Regions from separate parts of the Homo sapiens genome. Here regions 2, 3, 4, 5, 6 and 7 are each linked to region 1. Evidence: fine-mapped expression QTL. A gene starts in region 1. Each other region holds a variant in brackets. All regions are shown on one strand. Distances are between the middles of the regions. Region 1 holds the start of ERMP1 (endoplasmic reticulum metallopeptidase 1). Region 2 overlaps ERMP1 (endoplasmic reticulum metallopeptidase 1). Region 3 overlaps RIC1 (RIC1 partner of RAB6A GEF complex). Region 4 has its middle 28 kb from the start of ERMP1. Region 5 overlaps ERMP1 (endoplasmic reticulum metallopeptidase 1). Region 6 overlaps RIC1 (RIC1 partner of RAB6A GEF complex). Region 7 overlaps BRD10 (bromodomain containing 10).

What was found. PIP is the estimated chance that this variant, and not a neighbour inherited with it, causes the effect.
Region 2: its variant is fine-mapped to the expression of ERMP1 in whole blood (TOPMed, PIP above 0.99).
Region 3: its variant is fine-mapped to the expression of ERMP1 in whole blood (TOPMed, PIP above 0.99).
Region 4: its variant is fine-mapped to the expression of ERMP1 in esophagus mucosa (GTEx, PIP above 0.99).
Region 5: its variant is fine-mapped to the expression of ERMP1 in atrial appendage (GTEx, PIP 0.99).
Region 6: its variant is fine-mapped to the expression of ERMP1 in lung (TOPMed, PIP 0.97).
Region 7: its variant is fine-mapped to the expression of ERMP1 in esophagus mucosa (GTEx, PIP 0.97).

Annotation. Positions count from the first base shown.
Region 1 is chr9:5,831,432-5,835,431 of GRCh38, forward strand. ERMP1 (endoplasmic reticulum metallopeptidase 1) reads right to left here and starts at 1,686. Exons shown (of 15, transcript NM_024896.3): 1 at 1,259-1,686. The coding sequence starts at 1,596. RefSeq lists silencers at 1,253-1,472, 1,553-1,772.
Region 2 is chr9:5,802,712-5,806,711 of GRCh38, forward strand. ERMP1 (endoplasmic reticulum metallopeptidase 1) reads right to left here. Exons shown (of 15, transcript NM_024896.3): 9 at 2,900-3,074; 10 at 2,316-2,506. Among named protein-coding and RNA genes, the nearest start is that of ERMP1, 28 kb to the right of the region's middle. The variant C/T (reference allele first, on the strand shown) is at 1,951.
Region 3 is chr9:5,746,175-5,750,174 of GRCh38, forward strand. It overlaps RIC1 (RIC1 partner of RAB6A GEF complex), which reads left to right. Exons shown (of 26, transcript NM_020829.4): 12 at 1,128-1,331. Among named protein-coding and RNA genes, the nearest start is that of ERMP1, 85 kb to the right of the region's middle. The variant G/A (reference allele first, on the strand shown) is at 1,629.
Region 4 is chr9:5,859,015-5,863,014 of GRCh38, forward strand. It overlaps a transcript of ERMP1 not described here. Among named protein-coding and RNA genes, the nearest start is that of ERMP1, 28 kb to the left of the region's middle. The variant T/TG (reference allele first, on the strand shown) is at 1,620.
Region 5 is chr9:5,782,461-5,786,460 of GRCh38, forward strand. It overlaps ERMP1 (endoplasmic reticulum metallopeptidase 1), which reads right to left. Exons shown (of 15, transcript NM_024896.3): 15 at 2,112-4,000. Among named protein-coding and RNA genes, the nearest start is that of ERMP1, 49 kb to the right of the region's middle. The variant G/GT (reference allele first, on the strand shown) is at 2,251.
Region 6 is chr9:5,733,919-5,737,918 of GRCh38, forward strand. The region is part of intron 7 of RIC1 (RIC1 partner of RAB6A GEF complex); the gene reads left to right. Among named protein-coding and RNA genes, the nearest start is that of ERMP1, 97 kb to the right of the region's middle. The variant T/C (reference allele first, on the strand shown) is at 1,995.
Region 7 is chr9:5,926,149-5,930,148 of GRCh38, forward strand. BRD10 (bromodomain containing 10) reads right to left here. Exons shown (of 8, transcript NM_001017969.3): 6 at 2,896-3,011. Among named protein-coding and RNA genes, the nearest start is that of MLANA, 37 kb to the left of the region's middle. The variant A/C (reference allele first, on the strand shown) is at 2,286.

The DNA of each region.
Region 1 (4,000 bases):
CCCATCTCTTCTAAAACTACAAAAACTAGCCAGATGTAGACTACTATCCGCCTGTAGTCCCAGCTACTCAAGAGGCTGAGGTGGGAGGACTGCTTGAACCTGGGAGGTGGAGGCTACAGACCCGAGATGGAGCCACTGCACTCCAGCCTGGGCGACAGAGCCAGGCCCTGTCTCAGAAAACAAACAAAAAAAGCTAAAGACTAAGCAGGATAGAATATAACTTCACTGTGCATACTCCTGAACGTTACAGATTCTGGGTTAATGACTTTAAGTAGCAGAAACCAATGAGCAAAAATAATCAAGTCAAGAGGTTAAATAAGGCGGGCGGGGGAAACTTTTGATGGACCTAGCCCTCCTAGCATACACCCAAGGTCTAATAACTTCAATTCAGGCCAAAACCAACTGTACCCCTAATGAAAACAAAACTGTTTTTGTCTTTTCACTGCATTCCAAGTGGGGAAAGCTGGAAGTGGGGGTGGGAGACGTTTCAGAAAGTCCTTAATAAGCTTGCAACACTTTGCATTCTAGCAAAAACTTTTTAGAACACAGTAGCTGTTGAAAACTTGACGCCAGCTTAACACTTCATGAGCTTTGACACACCTGGGTTACAATATCTTTGACTTAATCACCTTTCCTAGCATTCTTAAAGGTCTTAAAAAAAAAAAAAAAAGTCAAACCTTACACAGTCACTAATCCAAGGGGCCTAAAGATAAACTGCAGGGATCTGAGAATTTATCAGACTGCATACCAAATTTTGACTGGGCGGTGTTCCAGAAAGAGTTTCTATAGCCTTCAGATGTGGGGGCTGTAACCCTCAGAAAGTTAGAACAGTGCACTAGCGCCTTCCAAAACTCCCCGCCCCCAAAGCGAATTTATACAACAGTCTAGGTACACAAATTTCCATCTGGAAAGCAGAAGGGCTAAGCAAGGTAAAAAGGGGAAGCTGTTCCAGAATATGGGGAGACGACTCACAACCAACCATCTGCACGAAGGGCAGACAGTGGAAAGCAGGTTCAATCTACCTGGCAACCCCAATCTGCACCACGAGCTTAACCGGGGACAGGCAAGCCCCAAGTCCCGGCAATTCAGACCCCAGAAGAAGGACAAGCAAGGTCACCCCACCCCACGTGCAGCCTGGGAGGGGTCAGCGAGTCCCAGCGGTCCGGCAGGGGCGGGTGCACACAGGTGCGGTGCCCCGGAGCCTGCGCAGGAGCCGCAAACGGACGCGCGGGCCGTGCCAGGAGGGAGCGGCCGGTACCTGGCTTGGAGCGCGTCGAACTCCCCGCGGTGTCCAGCGGCCCCGCGTAGCACGAGCTGCTGCAGCGAGAGCTGCACCAGCGTCCGCAGCGCGATCAGGTAGAGCGCGAGCCCCAGCGCGGCGCGCACCTCAGACAGCCCGGTCCCCGCGCCCCTGCTCGCGCCGCCGCTACCCCCGGGGCTCCTCTTCCGCGTCCTCCCGCCGCCGCTGCACCCATCCACCAGAGGCTCCTGCGCTCGGGCCTCCCTCTCCGGCGGTGGCGCGGCCGCCGCTCCCTCTCGACGCTCTACTCCGACGCGGTGCCGCCTCACAGCAGCCGACTCAGAACCCCACTCCATGGCCACGAGCCTCAGCTGCCAGCCCAACCGCCCCAACCCGCGACAGCCCCGGCCGCCGCCGACGCCGCCGTCGCTGCCGCAGCGCCTCCTAGTGAGCGGACGGAAACTGCAGAGGGCCAAACTTCTTCTGATTGGCCCGTCCCGCCGCGCCAAGACCCAGCTTCTTTGGCAGTTCTCGGGTGCACACAGCTGCAGGGCCGACCCAGCAGCGGGTGGTGGATATGCCGTCTCCCGCAGGGCTTTTCCAGCCCTCTGTAGGACGGAGATTGCCAAATGTAAAGACACCTAAAAACCCAAAACGAGAAAAATGAGAGATCGCTTTTGAAAGAACACACAAGGCTCTTACAGTGCATCAGGCAGATGAAAAAAGCAATGACCTGGCTTTCGTAAGGAAGGAATATTAGAACATCAGGCTCCAAAAAAGTGGGTTCCTGGCTCTTAAAATTAGAAATAAGATTACGCAGAGGAGGCCCGGCCTATTGCTTTCACATGCATAATCTAATCAGATCTTCATAACTCAGCAACTTAATCTGTGCTATTACTGTCTCCATTTAACAGATAAAGAAAAATAATGGCTATTATTTATTGAATACCTGCTATGAGCTAAGCGCTAGGTCAAGTCCTTTAATACATCATCTTATTTAATTATCTTTAACAATACTTAAAAGGAAATATCTTTGTTCCCATTTTATAACCTGAGAAACGTAGAGATAACAGATGAAGAATGTAAATCTAATTTCATGGGCTCCCAAAACAGCATTCTGTTCCACTACTACATTAGCACTCTGCAAGTGAAGGTTCAGAAAGGCCATTCTTCACTTGACGACTCTCTGGGGCGGTTAAGCAGCAGAGCCTTGGTTTCAGTGCAGATCCTAGTGATTATCTAGTCTTCTTCCAGCTTGCCGGTACCCATGAGCCTCTCTGCTCCAAGGTTTTTTGTCCCTAGCTTGGAGTTGCTACATTAGCATGAGCATTAACCTAGAGACCAACTGGGAGAGCACACTGCCGGATTTTGACTTAGCACATATGTCAGATTTCATACAATGCCCTATAGTCCTGCTCTTGCCCACCTCTCAGGCTCCTCTGACACCAGGATGCTTCTTATTTCCAGCTCTCCAGCCACACTGGCCTCTTTCAAAGACTTCCTGCACGCATCTTTCCTTCTACAATAGGATCTTCTCACATGCTGTTTGAATTACCTGGAGTGTTCTTCTCTCTCCTCATTGTCTTTTTAACTCCTAGTTATCCTTTAAATCTCAGATTAAGTGGTACTTCCTCAAGCAAGAATCTCCTAATTTAATTAAGCTTGCTTCCCCTATTTGTAGGATCTCACAGCACCATGTTTGCATGTGACTATTTCATAACTTCCTCATTAGACTGTAAGCCCCACGAAGGCAGGAATCAGGTCTGGTTTTACTCACCATTTTATTCCTTGCTCTTAACACAAAGCATGACACATAGTATGTAGTCAATAGATATTTCTTGAGTGAATGAAAAAATGAAAACATACCACTTTTGTGGCAGCAAGCATAATTTTAGCTCTACAAGATCCCTTTCAGTCTGTAAGCACTATGAGACTAAAGACAGTGTCTATCTTATTTAATCATCACTGTATCCATAGTGCTTAGCTCTGGATAAGAGCCTAGCCCATGGTCATAACTATATGTATGTATATATGTGTGTGTGTGTGTGTGTGTGTGTGTGTGTGTGTGTGTGTGTATGTCTGACAATATCCCATGGTACCATAATAGGGAAATGCCTGGCTGCCTGGCTGTTGGGGACGGGTAGATCTGAGTTCCTGGATCTGGTACCTTTAGTACACATGGCATTATTCAAGTTACAATCTCACAGAGTCCACGTGTATTTATCTGTGGTAATGCAGATGATACCTGCCTTAAGGGGCTTCAGTGAGGATTAGATAGATAGACAGATGATAGATGGATAGATAGATGTGTGTGTGTGTGTGTGTGTGTGTGTGTGTGTGTGTGTGTGTGTGTGAAAGATCCTCACATAAGATTCTCATTAAAAACTATTTTTCAGAATTTTCCTTCTCATGAAATCCTTTGTAGATTAGATTAAAAGCTACTTTCCTATCATGATAATCATAGAACTCTAGGTGGTAGGAGTTAAGTTACAGCTGAGTTCCTGAAAGGCAGTTTTTCTCTATACTTGTATAGTCTACGGTATTCACGTTTGAATATTTTTAGCTACTAGTTGTTGGATATCTACTTGTGTCAGATACTGATTAAGGTGGAGAAACAGAGAAGAACAAATCAATGTTTCTACCTTCAGAGAGCTTACATTCTAACAAAGAGACAATGAACGCGCGCGCGCATGTGTGTGTGTGTATAAAATGTCAGAGAGTTAAGTGCCATAAAGAAAAATAAAGCAGGGAAATTGAGAC
Region 2 (4,000 bases), 29 kb before region 1:
GTTATTCTCTGCTGGACCTTCATGGTTATACGTATACTGATTGAATGACAGGGGAAATGGGGACTGCTGATACAAGTGGGGTCAGGAGGAGAAGACTCAGAAACAGCTCAGTTATCAGCACACAATGGACATTTCAGAGTCCCTTTTCATGCTTCTCTTCATTTTATTTTGCACCCATCTCAGAACCTAGAGTGACACAGGATGCAATATTTCAGGAAGGCCGAGGCACGAGAATTGCTTGAACCCAGGAGGCGGTGGTTGCAGGGAGCCGAGATTACACCACTGCACTCCAGCCTGAGTGACAGAGCGAGACTCTGTCTCAAAAACAAACAAACAAACAAACAAACAAAAAACCGTGATTGCTTGACAAGACTTTAATTGCTTTCTAGCAGATGTATTTAATAAATCCCCAAGGACTGAAGGGAAAGCTGTCTGAAATATGCATTGTGGTTCAATTCTCCATTACCCAAAGAAAACAGTCTTACTCTATTAATAAGCCACTATCATTAACACTGCTACACATAAGTAAGAAAATAATTAAAAGAGTGATAACTCATGGCATCAAAGTGCGGCAGGGCTATTTCACATTATAATGAAAAATAAGTGAGCTTTCTAAAGTATTCCAAGAGGCAGTCTTCTCTCCAAAAGCTTTCCCAATAAAATATAATTTAGATGATAAGACACTTTAATCCTCTTTCTTCTGGTTTCCAAGATTTCCATGCTTTGGGGACATTTTCCATTTCCACAATGAACATCTCCAGGGTTCATTTTGCCCCCTTTCATATTATCAGTGGAACAGAATTTAAATGTCCCCTATCTGAGTCATCTTTTATGGACATCCATAGCTCCCATTCATGACTATAATTTAACAAATAAACGGGGGTGTGGGGGCATTCAGTTCATAACTAGTTGACTTCAGATTAGATTAGAACCTAATCTATAGATAACAAAAGTCCACTGTCTCCTTCAATCCTTACAACAGCAAACCTATCAAAAATACAGATGATATAAGGGTTACTATTAAACTCAAAAGCAGCAAACCCTACAGGCAGCAAAGAACATTTTAGAACTTTTCATACAGCCCTATGAATACCAATAAGGATTATCCTTATCCTTATATTATCCTTAATAATTATCCTATAAGTAAAATGGTTGGAAGGCTCAGATCTCTTTTAAGACTAGTACAACCAACCTCAAACAATAATATGCATAAGAATTACTCTACAGGACTATATACACAAAGTCACATATATAGAGCTTTACTGGCTATAAGGGACTTCCACGGATGATGCTGACCATGTGTGTAGTGTTTTCCTTACCTGCTGTCTTTAGAACCTAACTTCCACAAAGTAAAGGGGTAACGAATGCCCTTTACTATATCAGTATGAAAAGGCTCACTATCATCTCCATGAAGAAAAGAACTATAATAAAATCATAGCTCCTTTTCCTGTTTGGTTCCCTATCCTCAAATTTCAAGGTGCACCTCTGAGTGTTCAATAATTACTTTTTATTCTTAGGAATTCCCACCAAAAGAGACCTGCATTCTCTGGAGGGGCCCATCTTGGATCGTGGAGGTGGACATCAAACCAAAGCAAAACCTTGCTTGGGGCTTACTCTGCTCAAGGGGGGTCTGGTCTTAAACTCTGCATCACTGTCTTTTCTTCCCTCTGGGAATCCCAAGGGAAGAAAAAAAGGGATGGCAAACACAGGACTCTCCTTACTAGGGCAGGACACTGATACGGCAAAATGAGGACTGACAAGGCCTGTGATCATTTCATTATTTGGTAAATGAAGGCACGTTTGGGTGTCATAACAGACTCAATTAACAAGCTTTCATGTGGTAGCAACAAGGTAGTGGAATGATAATGAAAAAAGCCTCATCAGATTTAGTCTTCCTTCACTAGCTCTAAAAGCACTAATAAAACCACCCATGTATCTATTAACATGTGC[C/T]TCTAATTAGTAATTTCAAAATATACTATTAGGATCATTCACCACCAGGCAATCTCTAACAATTAATACTTGGTAAACGCTCTACAAATTCACACTCAGGTATCTGACAGGCTATTTGAAAAGAGGTAAATCAGAGAATTTGGAAGGATAGGGAGGCAAAAAACTTTTAAACAGCAACAACAAACTCTATACTACAGTTTCTTACGATACCAAATTTACAAGATGCATGGCCATTCATTCACCATTTCTTCTGCTTCAGATTTTCTCAATAAAGTACACGTAACACTATTTCACAGAATCTAGTATGGCTAAATTCATATTCATATAAAAAATGAAGAAAAAGAAAAAAACTTATTTTCTCTTACAAAATAGGACGAGAGAATCATTGTACAGCCAGCCAAAATGGATGCCAGCACAACATCAGGTGGGATTTCAGAACCACTTCTCCCGAGGATAGGGGTAAACATCTCAAATACTGCCCAGATGAGGTACAATGCATAAAGATAAGGAATAAACATCCCCAAAAGGTAAAAAGCAATAAATTTTCCTTGGGCACCTAGGGAAAAAGAGAAAAAAAGCACACATCTATGAAATCCTCCAGTGAGATATAAATTTTTATAGTACTGGTGTGCCTTGGTACCCTAACAGAAATTAGGTTAGATGTGACTCTTGCCCTTAAGGGTGTATGTTATCTTGGAGTAGGATCTTTCACTCAGGATAAAATACAAATAAGAATAAAGCAAAATACACAAGTAATATATTAGTATGTGTTCACAAACATGAGAAAGGGATGGAGTATAAGGCATAAGATAATTTGTGTGGTATGAAAACTTTTAAAAACTAACAATTTAGAAAGCCTACCCAATAAAACCAAAAAAGAAAGAGTCCCTGAAAGCCTTAAGTATTTTAAGGTATTCTCCCATGTATATCAAAATCAAAAATACCCTACCATGCTGCTTGAAGTCCTTATGCACACAGAGCTTTGTGAGCAATGGGAATGCTACCCAGACAGCACTAATAAACGCCGAGCAAAGTCCTTGGTAAGTGAGGGTAACAAGAAAACAGCAATGGACAAACAGCGAAATGTCAAAAAATACTTCTCCCAGATACTGGGCACTGGCATTCTGAAAGAAAGAAAAATATACAAGTAGTCTCATTCAGGGGTCATGCATAAAGAGCTTTTATTATAGTAACACACTTTCCATCACTCAGGAAAGCTACATTTTGTTTTAAACACAGTCTGCTCTTTAAACTGATTTAAAGTAAACACTAACAAAGCTACCTCCCCCATCATGAAGTAGTAAATTCAAATGTAGCACAAGAAAGGGCATTTTAACAATATAGAGTATAAATGCTCCATGTACTCTATGCTTTTCTTCTACTAGGCTAAAAGTAGAAATTTTCCAAAATAGAAGAAAGGACTCTCCTAAAAAACAATCATCTCTGTAAGCTTTTCAGTTCATGCCAATTCCAAACACTGTTTCAAGCAAACTAGAGAAATGACCTGTGAAGGAACGTTAGGAACTGCTGCAGCACCACCAATAACCCACATCTGGAAAACTGCAGCACCTTTAAAGCAATCTGGAGTTTGGCTTATTTTCATGAGTTTTTTCTATCTCCAGTTGGTCTTGTACTGCACCTTTGCCCCCTTCTTGTATTCCTCATGATTTCCTATTATAAAATTTGATCTTACAGTTTTTGAGATTTAAAGTCCAAGGGTTCCTATGTAGCACCTTGCACTCTTCAAAATAAAGTTGCCATATAAACTTTTTTTTTTTTTTTTTGAGACAGGTTCTCGCTCTGTCGCCTAGGCCGGAGTCCAGTGGTGCGATCTCGGCCCACTGCAGTCTCAGCCTCCTGGGCTCAAGTGATTCTTCTGCCTCAGCCTCCTGAAGTAACTGGGACTATAGGCACACACCACTACACCCAGCAAAGTTTAAAAAAAACATTTTTTTTTTGGCAGAGACAGGGTCTTGCCATGTTGCTCAGCCTGGTCTCAAACACCTGGCCTCAAGCAGTCTTCCCACCTCAGCCTCCCAAAGCACTGGGA
Region 3 (4,000 bases), 85 kb before region 1:
AATTGGCATATTATCTTCTTTTCTATGATTCTTGTGTTTCTTTTTAATTTATATTAAATTTATACCAAAATTTTATTTCTCAACGGGTTGTGTTTCTTTGGTCTTATTTTTTTAAAAGGGTCATAAGCAATTTGACGGAAAGCAATGTTTATATATTTATTTAAATAATTTGAGTAATTTAGTCTTTATCTGAATAGCATTTCCCAAAGTGTGTTCCTCCAGGCACTACTTATGAGAGATATTAGTAGCAGTTCCACAGGATTTTTTAAAAGTTTTGTTTCCATATAAGTGTCAAATAAAGGTAAAACAAAATTGTAGAGATTGATTGTAGGGCTCCAGAGGCTTAAATATGCCATTGTGCATCATGAAAATCCAGGAGGTGGTATATTAAAAACAGTGTTCCCCATGCTTATTTAACTGTGAATTTTTAAGAAATAGCTTAAAGAAAGTATGTCTGAGGACTTGCTTTTAGAAACACCGCCCCAAACACTGCCTCTTGTATTTCTATCTGAAATAGTGTATACTAATATTATTATATATCGCTAATATACAGTAATGGTATATGTTACATGTTAGAAATGTGTATCTTAATACCTACCATCAATGGCTTTTTAATGGATATTTGGTACAACAAATTTCTAATTAAAATTTACGAACATCCATAAAAAATGTGAAAATAGCCTGAATTTCAGATCCATTATTCCACTTGAAGACTAAGGATCCCCAGAAAAGAAGAGAGCATTTCTCCCTCCCCTTCCCCATCCCAAATAATAATTTAAAAGCACCCTTGAGTTTTATGTCAAGCCAGCATTTGGACTAAAATGGAAAAATGACAAGGGTAGGGTGCTACTTTGTCTGATTTCAATAGTTAATGAGTCTACTCACCTTTGAGAACACTGGCTTTCTAGCTGAAATCTCATAGTCACTAAGAGCACTATTCTTTCTAATTATAACAGTGCATGAGATTATTGTGTAGTCTTTGTCCTCTGTGAAGAAAATCAACATCGAGATACATGTACATTTCCTATAATAAAACTAAATCGATGTGTTATTTTTGCCTGCGTAATATTGAGTTGTTTTTATTTGTTTTCCTCCTTTGCCCTTTTGTTCCTCTTTCCCTCATTTAGAGTAACCAAGAGCAGGTGTTGCTTCAGGGTGAGGATCGCTTGTACTTGAACTGTGGAGAGGCTTCACAAACCCAGAATCCCAGGAGTTCTTCAACACACTCTGAGCATAAGCCCAGTCGAGAAAAGAGCCCATTTGCAGATGGAGGTTTAGAGTCTCAGGGATTAAGCACTTTACTTGGACATCGGCATTGGCATGTTGTACAGGTAAATCTTTAGTTACTGATTACTAGAGACTTATTCTTTGATAGGATATCACCTGGAACAGATTATTAAATATTTCATCTGTTAACTTCAGGCAACTGAGAATCCTTTTAACCATTTTGTCATGTCCCTCTTCTGCTTTTCTGTGTTCTTGTCCTCTAGTCTTCTCCCTCCTTTCTTTCCACTTGGCGTAGAGTGTATCCCCACCTGTTTCAAGTCTATTAATAATGTCAAGAACTAGAAGTTTATGTTTTGCCTTCTCATTGAGAACTATTTATTTTACTTTCAGCCTCTTTTTTT[G/A]TATAAATTTAGCTCTACGGATTTGCACAGGCAAAACAAAGTGTAATAATCTCATGGAAAGTGGCAACATCAGCTAGTACTCTGTACAGCTGACCTTACAGTCTTAAGGGGCCACGTTGAGGTTAATCATGTGACTTTGGACCCAAATTGCAGACTTGTGATCAGTAGAGAGCTTTATTGTTAATACTTTTATTAGCTAATCTTATTCCAAATTATTTATTCATTCTGATATCACTTTTAAATTAACAGTGTCTCACAGTAATTCTGATAAACTGACATTTAACATGGAAATTAATTCTCAATTTTGATACCAAGTAAAATTATTTTGGGGAAACCAGTAAGTTGAAGTTTCTTAAAAGAAACTTGCATACATAATTTCAGTCTTCCGACTGTTTTCTTTCCCTTTTTGATAGCAAAATATTTTAGGTACATCAAAGCCCACTCTTAGTTTCTTTTAGTCAGTTTCTGTTTCCATAATTCTTTGCCTTACTTTGACTCTCTATATGTTTACCCTACTAGCCTACTTCAGCTCCCATGTTATTTTCAGTTGACTTTGAGTGAAGATAATGAGAGACAAAAAAATGGTCATGTGAAAGGTTGAAGGATTATCTCCTACATTGACATCTGGTATACACTAAAAGAAAATGAACTTAACTTACATTAATAAATTCATAGAATCAAACAATGTACATACCATTTTATAATTAGTAACAATTTTTAAATAAAACTGCACTAGCTACTTCCTTGACTAAAATTTTCCACTGCTCCCTTCTCTCCTATAGCCATTTCTCTGCTATTTTCATTTCCCCATACTTTGAACTATTCATTCTACACTGACCTAGCATCAATGCCAGTTCTGCCTAGCCAGGTCTGTGTTACCAGAGAGCCAAGTAGAGCAGAGGATCAAAGAAGGTAGGTCTGGAACTAAAAAATCGATCAGGCAATAACAAAAATTGAATTTCCTTCCAGCTCAAAAACTCAGTGATTCTGTGATTCTTAAGCATCTATGAAGTACCCCATATAAGAGAAACATTTTAACACTGATTTTAGGACTTTGGGTACTAGCAAGATTCCACTGTTATTCTGTTCTTTAGATAGCTAAAGATATTTAGACAGATGAACTTTTAAAACTTGAGTTTACCTAGTTTATCAGTTTCCTTAAAAATAACATAAATAATGCCACATTGATTGTTTTGTACTGCTGAAACAATGAAAATGGGCTCATAGAATTTTTCAAGCTGGAAGGACCTAAGAGATCATAAAGTCCAACTGGATTTGATACATGAGGAAACTGAGGATCAGAGAAGTTATATGACTTGTCCAGTTCACCCAGCAGAGTAGTGGCAGACTTATCTTTATCATCACTCTACGTTAAAGTAAAAATCTAATGTATTTTAAAACCGAGGTACTGAGCATTAAATCACATAATACACCACTGACCTTGAGCTAAAACTTAGAATTCGCCTATTTGGCAGTTTGTACTTGGAGTTGCCCTGTATTTCGCTGGCACTCCAGCTACATGATTCAGTGCAGTTATGGTGGCGGTGTATAGGGCAGTATACAGTGTCTATATAATGCTAAACTTTTACGTTCTAGGCTTTTTAGCCATTTATGATGACTCCCTGAAGAAACATAGTTGCCTGGTTTAATTTGCCCCACAATAGTATCCTTTTTTCTAAGATAAGTGACCACATCCTCTGTCAAAGTTGATTTTGTTTGCGTGATTTATTCGTTGTATGTATGCTTCTTGTATAGCTTAGATGAACTCCAACTAATTCTGCTGCTTGTTCTGTTTCTCATTTAGAGTACTAGCTTTTTGTTTGTTTGCTTAAACCTGCTACCTTATACTCCTTAGCTTCCAGATTGGAAGATTCTATGTTACTTATGATTTTTCTTTAACTAAAACAAAACAAATACATACTTGTCAGAAGCAGGATTGGTAACTGGCAGTAAAGGCGGTGCTTTTTTTTTTTTTTTTTTTTTTTTTTTTTTGAGATTGAATTTTGTTCTTTGTTGCCCAGGCTGGAGTGCAGTGGCGTGATCTCAGCTCACTGCAACCTCCACCTCCAGGGTTCAAGCGATTCTGCTGTCTCAGCCTCCCAAGTAGCTGGGATTACAGGCACCTGCCACCATGCCCGGCTAATTTTTGTATTTTTAGTAGAGACGGGGTTTCACCATGTTGGCCAGGCTGGTCTCAAACTCCTGACCTTGTGATCCACCTGCCTCAGCCTCCCAAAGTACTGGGATTACAGGCGTGAGCCACCGCACCCAGCCAAAGCAAGCACCAGCAAGCACCAGCCAAGGTGCTTTTTAAAAAGTTTTTTCTTACCTATAAGTTTTAAAACTTTTGAAGTCATTTGTTGACATATGGG
Region 4 (4,000 bases), 28 kb after region 1:
GTGACTATTGTTTGCTCCATGTAATGCATGGTAGCTTAGTAACCTATTCCAAACATCACGGCTAGCAAGAGGTGAATTTAGACTTGACTCTAATGCCTCTGACTCCAAGTCATGTCCTCTCTCTGTGTTCCTTTTCCATTTGCTTCCTCTTTTCTTTTCCTTTTCCTAATTATTTAGCAGGAAGTCCTTCTGAAACGGGATCTTCTCTGTTCTAAACAGGACTTAATGGAATACTCTCCTTGGCAAAGACACTTTGGCAAAGGGAGCTCTTGCTACTCTCTTGGGAGTGACTTGTTCTTTTAACCTTTCAAAGCACTTCCCCAACCCTCATAACATTTAAACCTTACAAGAACCATATAGGATAATTAGGTAAAGTTATGATCCATAGTTTCAGATAAGTAAACACAGGCTCTGAGGAATTTAATAACTAATCTGAAAATCATGCAGCCTTACCCTGAGACAAAACAAGAAAGACTCTCCAGAGTTCCAATCTCTTCCTCCTGGCCTAGAAATGGCAAGTGGGCAACATCTTTTACGGAGAGAAGTTCCGAGGCGAAGTTCAGGGAATGAGAAAGACCTGTGATCAGTTGACAATGCCTGTCATGGGTGAGAAAAAGGAAAATAGAGGCACATGTGCTTGGTATTTGCTATCCCAACTTACCCATAACTATTTCAAAGCCTTAAGTTGTTTCTCACCTTAATGAGGAATTATGTTAATTCCCTTACAAGTAAGGCCTGGCACATAGTTGATGCTTACTACAGAGACGTACTATAATTTACTGAGTGACTGCTATTCCTCAGGCACTGTGCCAGGCTACATAGCTACATTCAAGTGTATCATTACTAAGTATTTAGATTTACTAAATTTAAACACAGCCTTAGATATACTTTGAAAAAACCACACCCCTGTATTACACAGGTCTTAGTACCAGAATTTTTAATATCTTAATAAAGAATTCTTACATGCTAAATAAGCTCAACTTAAGTTTATTAAGAAAGCATTGGTCAGGCACAGTGGCTTATGTCTATAATTTCAGCACTTTGAGAGGCTAAGACTGGAGGATTGCTTGAGCCCAGTTTGAGACCAGCCGGGGCAGTATAGTGAGACCTTGTCTCTACCAAAAAAAAAAAAAAGTTTTAATTAGCCAGGTGTGGTAGTGCATACCTGTAGTCCCAGCTACTTGGGAGGCTGAGTCAGGAGGATTGCTTGAGCCCAGGAAATAGAGGTTGCAGTAAGCTGTAATTGTGCCACTGTCTGCAGCCAGACCCTGTTTCCAAAAAAAAAAAAAAGAAGGAAGGAAGCATTTATATTTATAACTGGGATAAATGCACTGTCAGTATTTTAGGGATGAAGTTTACTGCCAGCAAGCACAGTGAGGGCAGGAGCTCTGTTCCATTCATCTTTATGTCTCCAGTGTCTGGCCAGCTGTACATTAATATAAATATGGATGGATAAGTGAGTAAATGAATGAAGCTCAGAGCCATAACGTATGGGCTCAATTGCTCATAACGTAACCAATGGCAAGTGACATACTACATGTTCTCTCTCTAGTGGCCATGAAAGTTGCAAGGACAATTTTATCAACTTCAGTCCACAATTTTTTTTTTTTTTGTAGAGA[T/TG]CGGGGGGTCTCACTCTGTTGCCCAGGCTGGCCTCGAACTCCTGGCCTCAAGCAATCCTCCTGCCTCAGCATCCCAAAGTGCTGGGATTACAGGCATAAGCAACCATATCTGGCCTCATTAAAAAAAAACTGTAGAGACAGTCTCCCTGTGTTGCCCAGGCTGGTCTCAAACTCCTGGTCTCAAGTGATCTTCCTGCCTCAGTCTCCCAGTAATCATGATAATGGATTACTATGGTGGCTGGTTCCCTATAAAAGGGTCATTTCACTGTCCCACCTCCACCCTCTCTCACTCTCTCTCCTTCTGTCATGTGATAATGTAGCAAGAAGGCCCTCACCAGATGCCAGCACCTTGATATTGGAGTTCCAGCCTCCAGTACTATGAGCCCATACATTTCTGTTCATTGTAATTTCCCAGTCTGTGGTATTCTGTTATAGCCACACAAAATGGACTGAGACAGGGATCTAGTAAGAAGCTATGCTCTCTGTCAAAATGTTTCTGCATTTCTGAGAGGCAGTGAACCCACAATGGCTTAGGGGGTGTGTGTGTGTGTGTGTGTGTGTGTGTGTGTGTGTGTGTGTGTGTGTGTAAAAGCTAAGAAAAAGTAAAGTACTGGAGAGGGAAAAAAAATCAGTTAATAACTCAAAGTATTATCCCAGGATGTCATCATTGGCCTTAGCTGTGCTGAATTTGGGTGAAAAAAAAGTAAGATTTAAGGAAATATATTCTACACTCTTTCTACTCAAGGTACAGGGTTGAGTTTTCAAAATCATACTTGCTGGGTTTTTTTTTACTATTTTATTGAGGTATTCAGTACCACCTTTAACAAGGAGAAAGCAGGAGCCATGTGTGTCAATCTTGATTAAAGACCTATTTGTCTTCTTTTACAGATGGCACTAAAAGCAGATTCCTTTCTCACTAAGAAGTGGACAGTTAACTGTAGACTTAGATGCACAAGACAGGGCCTCTGGAAACCTGGCAAGAGACGGAGATGGAAAGTACTAAGCCAGTAAGGGGCCCTAGGGCTCCACTCTCTTCCCAGTGCAGGCAGAGCTCTAGTGTTGACCCCAGAGAAGAGAGGAAGGGTTTTTTTTTTTTTTTTTTTTTTTTGGTCTGCCCAGAAAAAGAATAGTCCAAGGTCAAAGGATCTCAGCAGGTGCAACAGCAACATCAGGGGAGGGGGACTGCTCATTCTGTTTCTCCAGGCCACCCTGGGGAGATGGCTCCTGGCCCTTCTCTTTTCATGGGGCCAGTTGAGTGTAGTCCCTCCTGTTACCAAAAGTGGTCAGATAATCAGGGGCTGTCCCTCTAGACACAATCCAACCACTAGTCCTTTAAAAGTTAAAGTTTTTTAAAAAATCACATTTTAATTTTTTTTTTAAAAAAAGTATGTATGTATGTATGTATTTATTTATTGAGACAGGGTCTCCTTCTGTCACCCCAGCTGGAGCGCAGTGACACAATCATGGCTCACTGCGGCCTCTACCTCCTGGGCCCAAGTGATCCTCCCACCTCAGCCTCCCAAGTAGCTGGGACCACAGGTGTGTGCCACCATGCCTGGTTAATTTTTAAATTATTTTTGTAGAGATGGGATCCCCCTATGTTGTCCAGGCTGGTCTTGAACTCCTGGCCTCAGGTGATCCTCCTGCCTCAGCCTCTCAAAGTGCTGGGATTACAGACATGAGCCACCATGCCTGACCTACTTATTTATTTATTTTAGAGACAGAGTCTCACTCTGTCATCCACACTGGAGTGCAGTGGTGCAATCATAGCTTATTGCAGCCTCGAACTCCTGGATTCAAGAGATCCTCTCACCTCAGCCTCCCAAGTAGCTAGGACTACAAGTGTGTGCCACCATGCCCAGCTAATTTTTTAATTTTTTGTACTTTTTATTTTTTGTAGAGATGGAGTCTCTGTGTTGCCAAGGCTGGTCTTAAAGTCCTGGCCTCAGGCTGTCCTTTTGCCTAAGCCTCTTAACATGCTGGGATTACAGGCATGAGCCACTGTGTCAGGCTAAAAATCACATTTCTTCATTTTATACATAACATTGGTGCCTAAACCAAAACCCTTGTATTATCATCAAGGGTCATCCTTGATTAACCGGCTTAATCCTTAAGGCCCACAACTGATCACCAAGGTGAGTTCTCATTCCAAAGGAGTGTCTACTTGTTGGGGCCATGGGTTGGTTCTCAGGTCCTATAAATGGACTTGTCCCAGGAGCCCCAACCAAGACTGTGTGACAATCCAATAAAATGCAATAAGAAAGCCAGAATCCAATGGTCTCCCTTAAATGAGGCAGTGTTAATGGAGCAGACAGAGATTTATGTGCAAGAGGAAGAGACTAAAACATCTGTTTGTGGTAGTGCAAAAATTCAGAGAAAGT
Region 5 (4,000 bases), 49 kb before region 1:
TGAATAACTACTTTAAAGTTCATATGGAACCAAAAAAGAGCCCACATAGCCAAGACAATCCTAAGCAAAAAGAACAGTGCTGGAGACATCACGCTACTGACTTCAAACTATACTACAAGGCCACAGTAACAAAAACAGCATGGTACTGGTACCAAAACAAGATATATAGACCAGTGAAACAGAACAGAGACCTCAGAAATAATACCACACATCTACAACCATCTGATCTTTGACAAACCTGACAAAAACAAAGAATGGGGAAGGGATTCCCTATTTAATAAATGGTGTTGGGAAAACTAGCTAGCCATGTGCAGAAAGCTGACACTGGATCCCTTCCTTACACCTTATACAAAAATTAACTCAAGATGGATTAAAGACTTAAACGTAAGACATAAAAACCCTAGAAGAAAACCTAGGCAATACCATTCAGGACACAGGCATGGGCAAAGACTTCATGACTAAAACACCAAAAGCAATGGCAACAGAAGCCAAAATAGACAAATGGGATCTAATTAAAGAGCTTCCGCACAGCAAAAGAAACTAACATCAGAGTGAACGGGCAACCTACAGAATGGGAGAAAATTTTTGCAATCTATCCATCTGACAAAGGGCTAATACCAGAATCTACAAAGAACTTAAACTTACAAGAAAAAAAAAAAACATCAAAAAGTGGGCAAAGGGTATGAACAGACACTTCTCAAAAGAAGACATTTATGCAGCCAACAAACATATGAAAAATAAGCTCATCACCACTGGTCAGAGAAATGCAAATCAAAACTACAATGAGATACCATGTCACGCCAGTTAGAACGGCGATCATTAAAAAGTCAGGAAACAACAGATGCTAAAGAGGATGTGGAGAAATAGGAACTCTTTTACATTGTTGGTGGGAGTGTAAATTAGTCCAACCATTGTGGAAGACAGTGTGACGATTCCTCAAGGATCTAGAACTAGAAATATCATTTGACCCAGCCATCCCATTACTGGATATATACCCAAAGGACTATAAATCATTCCACTATAAAGACACATGCACATGTATGTTTACTGCAGCACTGTTCACGATAGCAAAGACTCAGAACCAACCCAAATGCCCATCATCAATGATAGACTGGATAAAGAAAATGTGGCACGTATGCACCATGGAATACTATGCAGCCCTAAAAATGGTTGAGTTCCTGTCCTTTGCAGGGACATGGATGAAGCTGGAAGCCATCATTCTCAGCAAACTAACACAAGAACAGAAAGCCAAACACCGCATGTTCTCACTCATAAGTGGGAGTTGAACAATGAGAACACATGGACACAGGGAGGGGAACATCACACACCAGAGCCTGTCAGAGGGTGGGGGGCTAGGGGAGGGACAGCATTAGGAGAAATACCTAATGTAGATGACAGGTTGATGGGTGCAGCAAACTGCCATGGCACATGTATACATATGTAACAAACCTGTACATTCCACACATGTACCCCAGAACTTAAAGTATAATTTTAAAAAATTTAAAAAGAGTCGTAACTGCATCTTGGCTAAAAACAAATGTAAATAGCCATAACTGCATCTTGACTTTATTGGCCCTAAAAGAAGAAGAGGAGTATTAGGTTAGAAGTTGTTCAGCTGCTTCACCTTGCATTGAACTGTTCTGAGAGAATTCACTCAAAGTTTAAATAACTTGCACAGAGATCTCTGAACTCAAAGTTCATGCTCTATTTTGGTGAGTGGTGGTGCCCTTTCCTTCTGTGGAGATTAGAATAAGCAATGAGTCACTCTGGCTGAAAGGCAACTTCTTCCCTCCCTCCTACCCTTACTCCCAAATAAAAGAACGCCCTTTACCCTTTGCTATTTTTTTGCTAATGGGGATGATTTAAAACTCCTACATAGGTGAAGCTCAACATTTACCTAATAATTTCTGTGAAATTCAGAAGTACCATTTCATTCTAAGATAAAGGATTCTAACTGAAGTAAACATTTCCATGTTGAGTTCTTTGCTCACATGAGCCATCTAGGTCTTTTAACAGCAATTAAAAGGCTCTGTGGACATGGAATAACCCTTGAAAATATGGGGATACAGAAGAACACAGATCTGTTTTTCAGTTAAAAAGATACCAACCAGTATATTAAACAGTTTATTTCAGTAACATTGTAAGGCAACAATTAATCCTCAGTAAGTCAGCAAACCAGTGACAAGAAATTGACAAACACTCCTTCTACAGCTTCCTGAGACAGCAGGCTGGCTTGTGGCCCCCTGGGTG[G/GT]TAACATCTTAAGGAATCCTATCATGTTTGTTTATATATGCTAAACTGTAAAAACAAACACTTCATGCGACAATCATTCTTAGGTCAAACACAAGAACGAACTATTTTGAAATCAATTCCTCACACTTTTTCCCTGAATATGCAGTACTGTACTACTAACATCTAATTCTGTAGAAAATAATGCATTTGTTAGTGACTTTGTTAGAGCTTGAAAAGACCCTTTTAGAAATTATTTAAATGATCACTCTTTAAAAATTTTTTTTAATCTCAGAATCTACTAATGTGACAGACAAACGGTATGCTTAACAGAGTCATAAATACTGTGTATAATTGCTTGACCATTTCTGGCATTTAAATGACCTCCCAGAATATTACACAAGCCCTGAGACTAGTGAGCATCTTACTACTGACCTTGTACAATACCAAAGCTTCATAATGCTAAAGAAAACCAAAACAAAAGACAATGGTTTACACAGGGAAATAACCCTAAGGCAATATGAAAACAGTCATAATTTATTACTGATAAAGAGTAAAGGCATCCTTCCCATAGAGGGGGGGAATTCACAGGGAACACTAATTATATCAGATGAACCACGGGGATAGAAAATAGGCCCATTTTTAAAATTCATTGAGAAATTATTACTTTTTCTCCACAACTGTGATTCTATACAAAATATAAACCCTGCAAACCTTATGTGCTACCTGACAGATAAAAGTAGCAGGAGCCAGACTCTTGAAGCACTTGAGACTGATTTCTACAAAGTCCAGGAAGAGCAATGATTCCAGTGTGCAGTGCTGATGCATGTGTGAGCCTAACATGTTATTCAGCTCTGGTTGCAGCCCCATCTACATGGGCCCAGTTAGTTTTTAGGGAGTCACAGATTAGGCAGGCAACGAGGGGCATGATTTAAAAAGCACATCATACACATGAGACAAGCAGCTTCAAGGACGTTTTCTCCGGCAATGCATACTTACTGTGCTCTTTCTATTCAGACAGATCCACAGACCACCTTTCAAGAGCATTCCTCTCTCATTTCCTCCATCACCCAAGATAAATCTAGCCACCCTTTTTTGTTAACTGTGCCTTTTCTTTCAACTTTTTGTCCTTGTTAAAACTCAAAATTTGTCCAACGTTTCACATTTCCTAATGATAAAAAGAAAGCTTGCACAGTTTACCATTGATCTCACCAATGCCCTCACTGCTGGAACCAAAAAGCCATGAGAGGTACTGCTGTGATACACCTTACAAGCTACATAGCCATCTTCAAAATGAAAACCACCTTTTAAGTCCTCATGCTGCCATTACGCAGGATCTGAACCACCTACACGTACAGTGGTCTCATTCCAGTATAAGCCACAACCTCAAGTCTCAGGAAAGCCAGTCTGCTGGATAGTAAGTTACTGAGAAAAACTAATCTATTCAACTGGCTGGAAAACAAAAAGATAGGCCCAGTGCATCAGTAAGATTATACCATGAAGGACTAACCTTGTATAACACAAGACTCCTATGAAACAAAGAAAAGAGAATAAATATTTATAAAATTCCCACCACTCCCAGCCTTCCTTCTACCCCAGAATAGCCCAGATGGCAGCTCAGTGCTCTGAGGAAGGAAGTTAAGGTCATGTACTGGCACAAACAATATTCTGAACCAAAAGAACCTACGAAAACCAGAGGGGTATGTGGCCAAATATTCCCCTTTTCAACTTGGTAAGATGGAGAGGGGTAACAGACATGTTTCAGAGGAAAACA
Region 6 (4,000 bases), 98 kb before region 1:
ATGTTTGGTAGAATTTGCCAATGAGAAGCCATCTAGACCTAGAATTTTCTTATTGTGGATTTTTTTGGACTACTGATTCAATTCAGTTTTTAAAAATATACATATATATAATGTATATATTTTAGATATATATATTTAAATATTATAAATATATATAATATATATTTTAAATATATATATATATTTATTTTATTTTATTTTATTTTTTGAGACAGTCTCGCTCTGTCGCCCTGGCTAGAGTGCAAGAGCGTGATCTTGGCTCACCGCAACCTCTGCCTCCTGGGTTCAAGTGATTCTCCTGTCTTAGCATCCTGAGTAGCTCGGATTGCAGGCATGCACCACCATGCCCGGCTAATTTTTGTATTTTTAGTAGAACGGAGTTTCACTGTGTTGGTCAGTCTGGTCTCAAACTCCTGACCTCGTGATCCATCCACCTCGGCCTCCCAAAGTGCTGTGATTACAGGTGTGAGCCACTGGGCCCGGCCCAGTTTTAAAAATAGATTTAAGAAGATTCAGATTTTGTATCTCTTCCTATGTCATTTTGGCAAGTTGCATTTTTTCCAGGAATTGGTTTCTTTCTTATACACCTTCAAACTTACTGGCATAAAGTTTATAATACCCTTTTTATTTCACATTGTGAAACAAAAATATGCATACAAAGTAGTACATAATCCAGATATTCATAGTTTTAACGTTGTAGTAGAAACACCCATCTCTTCACAACTGGATCAGTAAATAGAACATTACTGGTCTCCAGTCACAAACTGCCTCTGCTACTTCCTAGTCACAACTCTTATTCCCTCCTTGACTCACTTAGTAACTGGTCAACATTGTGAGATTCATCCATGTCATTTACCAGTAGTTGTAATCATTTTTTAAATTGGTTTATAAATAACGTTCCATTGTCTGAATATAGCATAATTTATCCACTTTGCTGTTGACATACTTTTGCCTTATTTCTTGGTTTCTAAAAAAGGAGACATTCTCTTGTATAATTGGAATATCTTTATCACATGAGATAATTAATGATAAATCCCTAATAGGATCTAATACCCAATTTATATGCAAATTAACCCAGTTGCCACCAGCTAAATTTCTTCTATAGCTCCTTTGTTCCAAACAGAATCGATCAAGATTCATTAATAATATTTGGTTATTATTTCTCTTTAGTTACCTTTTAACTACAATAGTCCTTATGCCACTTATTTTCATGACATTGACTTTTTTTGAGTCTGAGTCGATTCTTTATAGAATATCCTGCATCCTAGATTTGCCTTATTGTTTCCTCATGATGGCATTTACCTTGTTTATCTGACACCTGTCGTGACTAACCTGGAAGCTAGTTCTTGTTGAGCAATACAGTCAAGTGACTAGAAAGCCCACACATCAGGCATGGAAAAGTATTTAGAGAAAATACACAGAGACAGAAGCAGTGGCAAGTGTGCAGTTCCATTTACTGCATTTGGGGCCAGCACAAGGGTGGGTGTTAGAATCCAGAAGAAGTACTCCTCCCTAGGCTATGGGCTTATAAGCTACATGATTGGGAAGTACTAGCCCTTCCCAGGATAATGTAGGTAGACTCTTGGCCTATAGCTTTTCAGTCACCTCAGTTTTCATCAGCTACGAGACTACAAGTTCTCTTCTAGCATGCCCATGGGTTAGGGTTAAAGTTTTGTGATTCTAGCTGTTGACATAACAAACCAGTGTCTGCTAGTCCAGATCTGCCAACACTTATCAGGACTAATTACCTTGAACACTAGGTGATAGCTGGTGTCCTTAGAGTTGTGTAAGAAGCCAGCTTCCTTTTAGGATGCCAGTTTGCAGCAGATCAGTATTTTAACAACCTTCCTGTTAACCTAAATATTTAAAGGTATTACTAGATTCTGGTTACACATTTTGTCATGGGTGATGATATATATTTCCTATGGTATCATTTAGTAATAATGTCAAGTTGTTTCAGTATTAATGACACTAAATTTGATCACTTATGGTGA[T/C]AATAGTCATATCTCTCTTATAGAGATTTGCTTTGGAGTTAGTAAGTCCTGTCTTTTTAATGAAAATATATTTTTCTGTTACATTGGGCTGGTGAGAAATGGAAGGAAAAGTAGTTTAAAGAATACAAGCACTATAGAATACCTAAAAGATTGTCAGACTTTTATAAGTAGTAACTTAGCACCTACTTCTTATATTTAAAACATGGACTCCTCACTAACATTTTAGAGCTCAGCAACCCAGGGTTAGCAGTTGACAGTTGTCAGATGCAAAGCAAAAACAAACACCTGCTACCCACTTAGTGCTGTCTCTCAGCAAGAGTTGATCTATTTGGGCAGGTAGTCTGGAAAGAAATCTTTTTCAGATATTTGGCTTCTGGGTATGATTGAATGACAGATGACATTTTCCCTCCCACCTGATACAGCCAAGAAAACGGACAAAAATATGAAAGAGCTGTTTTGAATTCAGAACACAAACATAAGGTAACAAGGGACAGTGATTTCTGAAAGATGAGAAACAAAATTATCTCTCTGTAACTGCCCTTAGTTTTTATTATTTTGAGTGTTTGTAGGCTGCAGCACAGGATTGGGGAGATACATCCTGAGCTGAGATAAGCACATGGAAATCAGAGAATCTGGGAAAACCAAGGCAGCTAGAGTTCATAATATAGACACCAAAGAGGTGGCACAAAGAGAGAACTTCAGAGAGCTGTAGAGGGTCTCTCTTGAATATTAAACTGAGACATGGAAGATATTAGAAAAAGACTGAAATTAAACTTCTAGAGGTGAAAACTATGATGTCTGAGATGAAAAACATACTGTATGGAACTAACAACAGATTAGACATTGCAGAAGAGAAGATTAATGAACTTGAAAAACAGAAATTATCCAAAATGGAACACAGAAAAAAAAGAAAACAAAAACAGAGTATCAGTAAGCTGTGGGACAACTTTAAGGAGGCTACTATTGCAGGTCTTTTAGTTAGTCCCAGTTCTAATCCTTGAGAAGAGGTAGGACCTGGATGGGAATGGATCAAAGCTGCTGTGAAGAAACCATCTGATTTCTCCTACCACCAAAAAAAAAAAAAACAATCTGGTAGTCATAAACCAGTGTCATCCTATTATGTGCAAAAGCATTCTTATATTAAAAAGTGTCTTTAAGAACATTTGTTTCTCTTTCTCACTATAAATGTTGCATAAGTAATCTAAAACAGGAGCCTCATTTTCAAATGCTGAATGTGCATTAAATTTTTGAACTGAGAATATACCATGAGCAGAAATGAGACTTTTCTGTTATCCTCGTAGTTCAATTTTGAAATGTGGCTTAGACGTATTATAGAGATTTTACTTCTGGCTTCAGGCCCTTCAGAAATTTGACCCTTGTAAAGATGTTTTAAATTAAGTAATTATATATACCATATACACAAAAAAGCATATAGATTTTAAAAATAAAATGTTTATAAATTACCATCCAACATAAGAAATAATACATCACCAGTGCTGATGAAGCCTCCTGTTTACCCCTCTTCTTTGATACTCCCTTCTCCACCAGAGTATCACTAATCTGAAATTTGTATACATTAACTCTTTGTTGTATTTTTACCACAAATATATTTACTATTAATACTGTATATCTACTATATATATATCAAATATGTATGTTTATATTTACTATGCTTTTACACACACACATGTTTTATATCTTAAACGTATATACTGTTGACCGTTGAACAGCCCAGGGGTTAGAGGTACCAACCCCCCAACACAGTTGAAAAATTTACATATAACTTTTGACTCGCCCAAGACTTTTAACTACTAATAGCATACTGTTGACTGGAAACCTTACTGACAATATAGTCAATTAACACATACTTTTTATTTTATATATATTAATATTATATATTGTATTCTTACAATAAAGTAAGAGAAAAGATTATTAAGAAAATTATAAGGAAGAAATAATGTACTTACTATTGATTAAGTGGAAGTGGATCATCTTAAAGGTCTTCA
Region 7 (4,000 bases), 95 kb after region 1:
CTCGTGATCTGCCCACCTTGGCCTCCTAAAGTGCTGGGATTACAGGCGTGAATCACTGCGCCTGGCCATGTTCTCCAATTTATTTTTGCTATACATTCTTATTTGTGCACATTAGATTTTAAGTCCTACCTCTGTCACTTACCAGTTGTAAGACTTTCAATTTTAACTTAGTTTTTTGAGACAGGGTCTCGCTTTGTCGCCAGGCTGGAGTACAAGTGGCACAATCTTGGCTCACTGTAACCTCCACCTCCCAGGATCAAGCAATGCACCCACCTCAGCCTCCTGAGTAGCTGGGACCACAGGCATGCACCACCATACCTGGCTAATGTTTGTATTTTTTGTACAGACACAGTTGCACCATATTGCCCAGGCTTTAAATTTTTTATTTATTTATTTTTTTTGAGACGGAGTCTCACTCTGTTGCCCAGGCCAGAGTGCAGTGGCGCGATCACAGCTCACTGCAAGCTCCGCCTCCTGGGTTCATGCCATTCTCCTGCTTCAGCCTCCTGAGTAGCTGGGACTACAGGTGCCCGCCACCACACCCGGCTAATTTTTTGTGTTTTTAGTAGAGACGGGGTTTCATCATGTTAGCCAGGATGGTCTTGATCTCCTGACCTCGTGATCTGCCTGCCTCGGCCTCCCAAAGTGGCTTTTAATTTTTAAAACATTAAAATTCCTTAATTTCCAAAACATTAAAATTCCTTAATTTTCTAAGCATCAGTTTACTTATTACAAATGAGAATAATAATAGTACTTACCTCTCAGTACGTGTGGCACATAAATATTCAACAAATGTTAGTTAATAATTGCTTTCAGTTTATGTAGGTTTTCAATTATTGTTAAGGGTTTTATGGAAGCACATGAGGGCTGTGAAAGGTATTAGAATGGGTTACCAAATGATAATCATAAAATGAATTTCCCTTTCAATCTATAAGATTGGAATGAAAAAATATCTATGTGGGGATAGTATAAAGTTCTCCTCCCTTCTCACTCTCAGTAACCTTCTCGGTCTCAGTTAATGGCTTTACTTCTTATTTCAAGAAAAATGGAGGCAATCAGAAGAGAACTTTCACATGCTCACACCTCATCTGCAACTCACCTTAATGTATATTCCTATTCTCCATCTCCCTACCTAAGCTAACACCTCCATTTAAATGCATCCTCTTACCTAATCAAGGATAACACTCTACCAAATGTCCCTTCCTTTACCTGAATCCATTTTTTGTCTACTAAATCATTTCCATCAGTACACAAACATGTTATTCTATCACACAAACGACAACAACAAAACACACTCTCTTAACCTCTTTTCCTTCCAGATACTGCTCCATTTCTCTATTCCACCTTATAGCAAAACTCCATGAAAGAGGACTCTTCCATTTCTCTCCCCTAATTCTCCTGAATAGACTTCTAAGACTTTTATCCACTCTTCTACTACCACAGCTCACCAAGGTCATTAATATGATCCTCATGTTGCCAAATTAAATAATAAATTCTTATTTCTCATTTCCTCAACCCATCATGAGCAGCCCTCCTTTATGAAACATTTTCTTTACCTGGTTTCCAAAACACTTCTCTTCCTTGACTATCTTCCTGTTTTACTGAGCACTCCTTCAAAGTCTCTTCTACTGAGTCCTACTCATCTTGGCCACTTCTACATGCTGGAAGGTCTAATGCTCGCTTTTCTTTTCTTCTCTATCTATGCTCATATACTAAGTGATTTCTACCAGCCTTATGTCTTTAAATACAATCAAGATGCTGACAGCTCCCAAATTTGTACCTCCAGACTCCCTTGAACTCAGACTCCTATACTGAACTGCTTATTCAATAACACCAATTATATGTCTAAAGAGCATATCAAAGTTAACATGTTCAAATCCAACTCTTCAATCCCCTCTACCTCTCAAATTTGCTACTCCTTGAGTTTCCCCTATCTCAGTTAATGGCAATTCCATTATTCCAGTTGTTTAGACCAAAAATAGTGGGTATCATCTTTTTCATTCCTCACTTTCTCTCATACTCCACATATCCAATCCTTAAGCAAATTCTACCAATCCTACTTTCAAGGTATATCCAGAATCCAGCCACTCCTTGGTATCTGCACTGCTACTATCCTAGTCCAAGCCTCTACCATTTTTCTCCTGGATTACTGCTATAGTATACTGGTTTCCCTGCTTTCATCTTTGTCCTATTACATTTATCTCCACCCAACAGAGTGATTGCTTTAAAACATAAATCAAATCATGTCCCTTCCCTGCTTAAAACCCTTCAATGGCTTCTCACCT[A/C]ACTCAGTGTAAAAACTCCAATTCTTAAAGATCTACATGATCTGGCTTCCTTCCTCCTTACCTCTCTGACTCTTGCCTGTTACCACATTTCTCTTCACTCGCTCTGCTCTGGTTACACTTGCCTCTTTGCATCTCCACTAAACGCCAAACATGCTATCAACTCTAGGGCTTTAGTACCTTCTATTCCCTCTGCTTTCCCCTCAGAAATCCACAGAGCTCCCTTCCTCATTTCTTTAAGGTCTCTGTTCAAACACCAACTCATCAGGGAAGCTTTCCCTGACACCTGATCAAAGAGTAACCTTCACCCTGCCCAAATCAGCCATTTCTTAACCCCCTTACCTTGCTTTATTTTTCTTCACAGCACTTTTTTTTGCCATCTGACATTTGAGTGTGTTTTTTTCCATGAGAATGTAAGTCACAGAGTGGAGACTTTGTTTAGTCAACAATATTTTCTCAGGGCTTAGAAAGAGCCTTGCACACAGTGGGCAGTCAAAAATATCTGCCGAATTACAAATGACTGGAAAACTACTAAATGATTCCAGGACATCATCCAAAAATCGTAAATTAAGGACCATAAAATAAGTAAAACAGATTATAACATTAAAATTACCTGTTTCTTTGGAAAGCCTTCATTAACTTTGGTTCCCATGGCAGCAATTCATTTAAAAGACGTATCAATGTACTATGTAATTCTTTTACAGCTTGCCTCCGATGATACCATTTTCCCTAAAAATAATGTTTAAAGTAAATCCCTTAGATTTATTCTAAAAGTAAATGTCAAAACTTATTTTCTGAGTAAAATACAAAAACACCAATACTCCATAAAAACGTATTTCTTCTTCAGAAGCTTGCAGAAAGGGGGAAAATATCCTGTAATAAATTTTATTCAATATATGTAACAATTCTCAATTCTACCAGAGAAATCTGAAACCTGTTTCATCCAACTGGAAGATAAAAATTTTAAAAATGTTTTAAAATTGCATCAATTGTAAATGTTTTAATAAATCATTTGTTAAATATATGTAAAAACACAAACATTTATATAAATTCATTAAGTAAGTATGACATGGGTCATTTCAGTAAAGTTACTGTAACTTTCCCAAAGACTGGGGAAAAGGGAGAAAAGGTAGGTTTGTTATCATGTCTAAAAGCAGTCTTTTTAACAAACTTCCTAGGAAATTTTACAATTATTTTATTTTACAATGTTTCTAGCCCAGAAAAGCAACCAAGCAGTTACTGTTTTCAATACCCTAATGCTATACTAAGAGTTAATAATTACTGATGTCCTCTCAATTTGCTAAGTTTTAACCTAGGTATTTCACATATATATATATCTAGAGAGAGCTCTAGCATTTACAAAAAGCCTTCTGAGATGTGTGCATTGTTATGTTCACTTTACAAATGATGAAAATAAGGCTCATAGAGATTAAATGACTTGCTTAAGGTCCTATAACTTAAACCCGTATCTGCCTGATTCTGAAGTCCAAGCTCTTAGAACCACATCACTACCTCTTAAAAAGTACATCACATGAATTCAATCTGACACAGGCTATAGAAACCTCTAGAAGATACACCTCACCTGTATATATAAAATTATTTGAATAACATAGGAACAATAAATTTATAGCTGCTAAGCCACAGTATATACTTATTATTACCATCACCTACTGTTACATAATCATGTTGGGTTTTTTTTTTGTAATGGCTTTGAGATA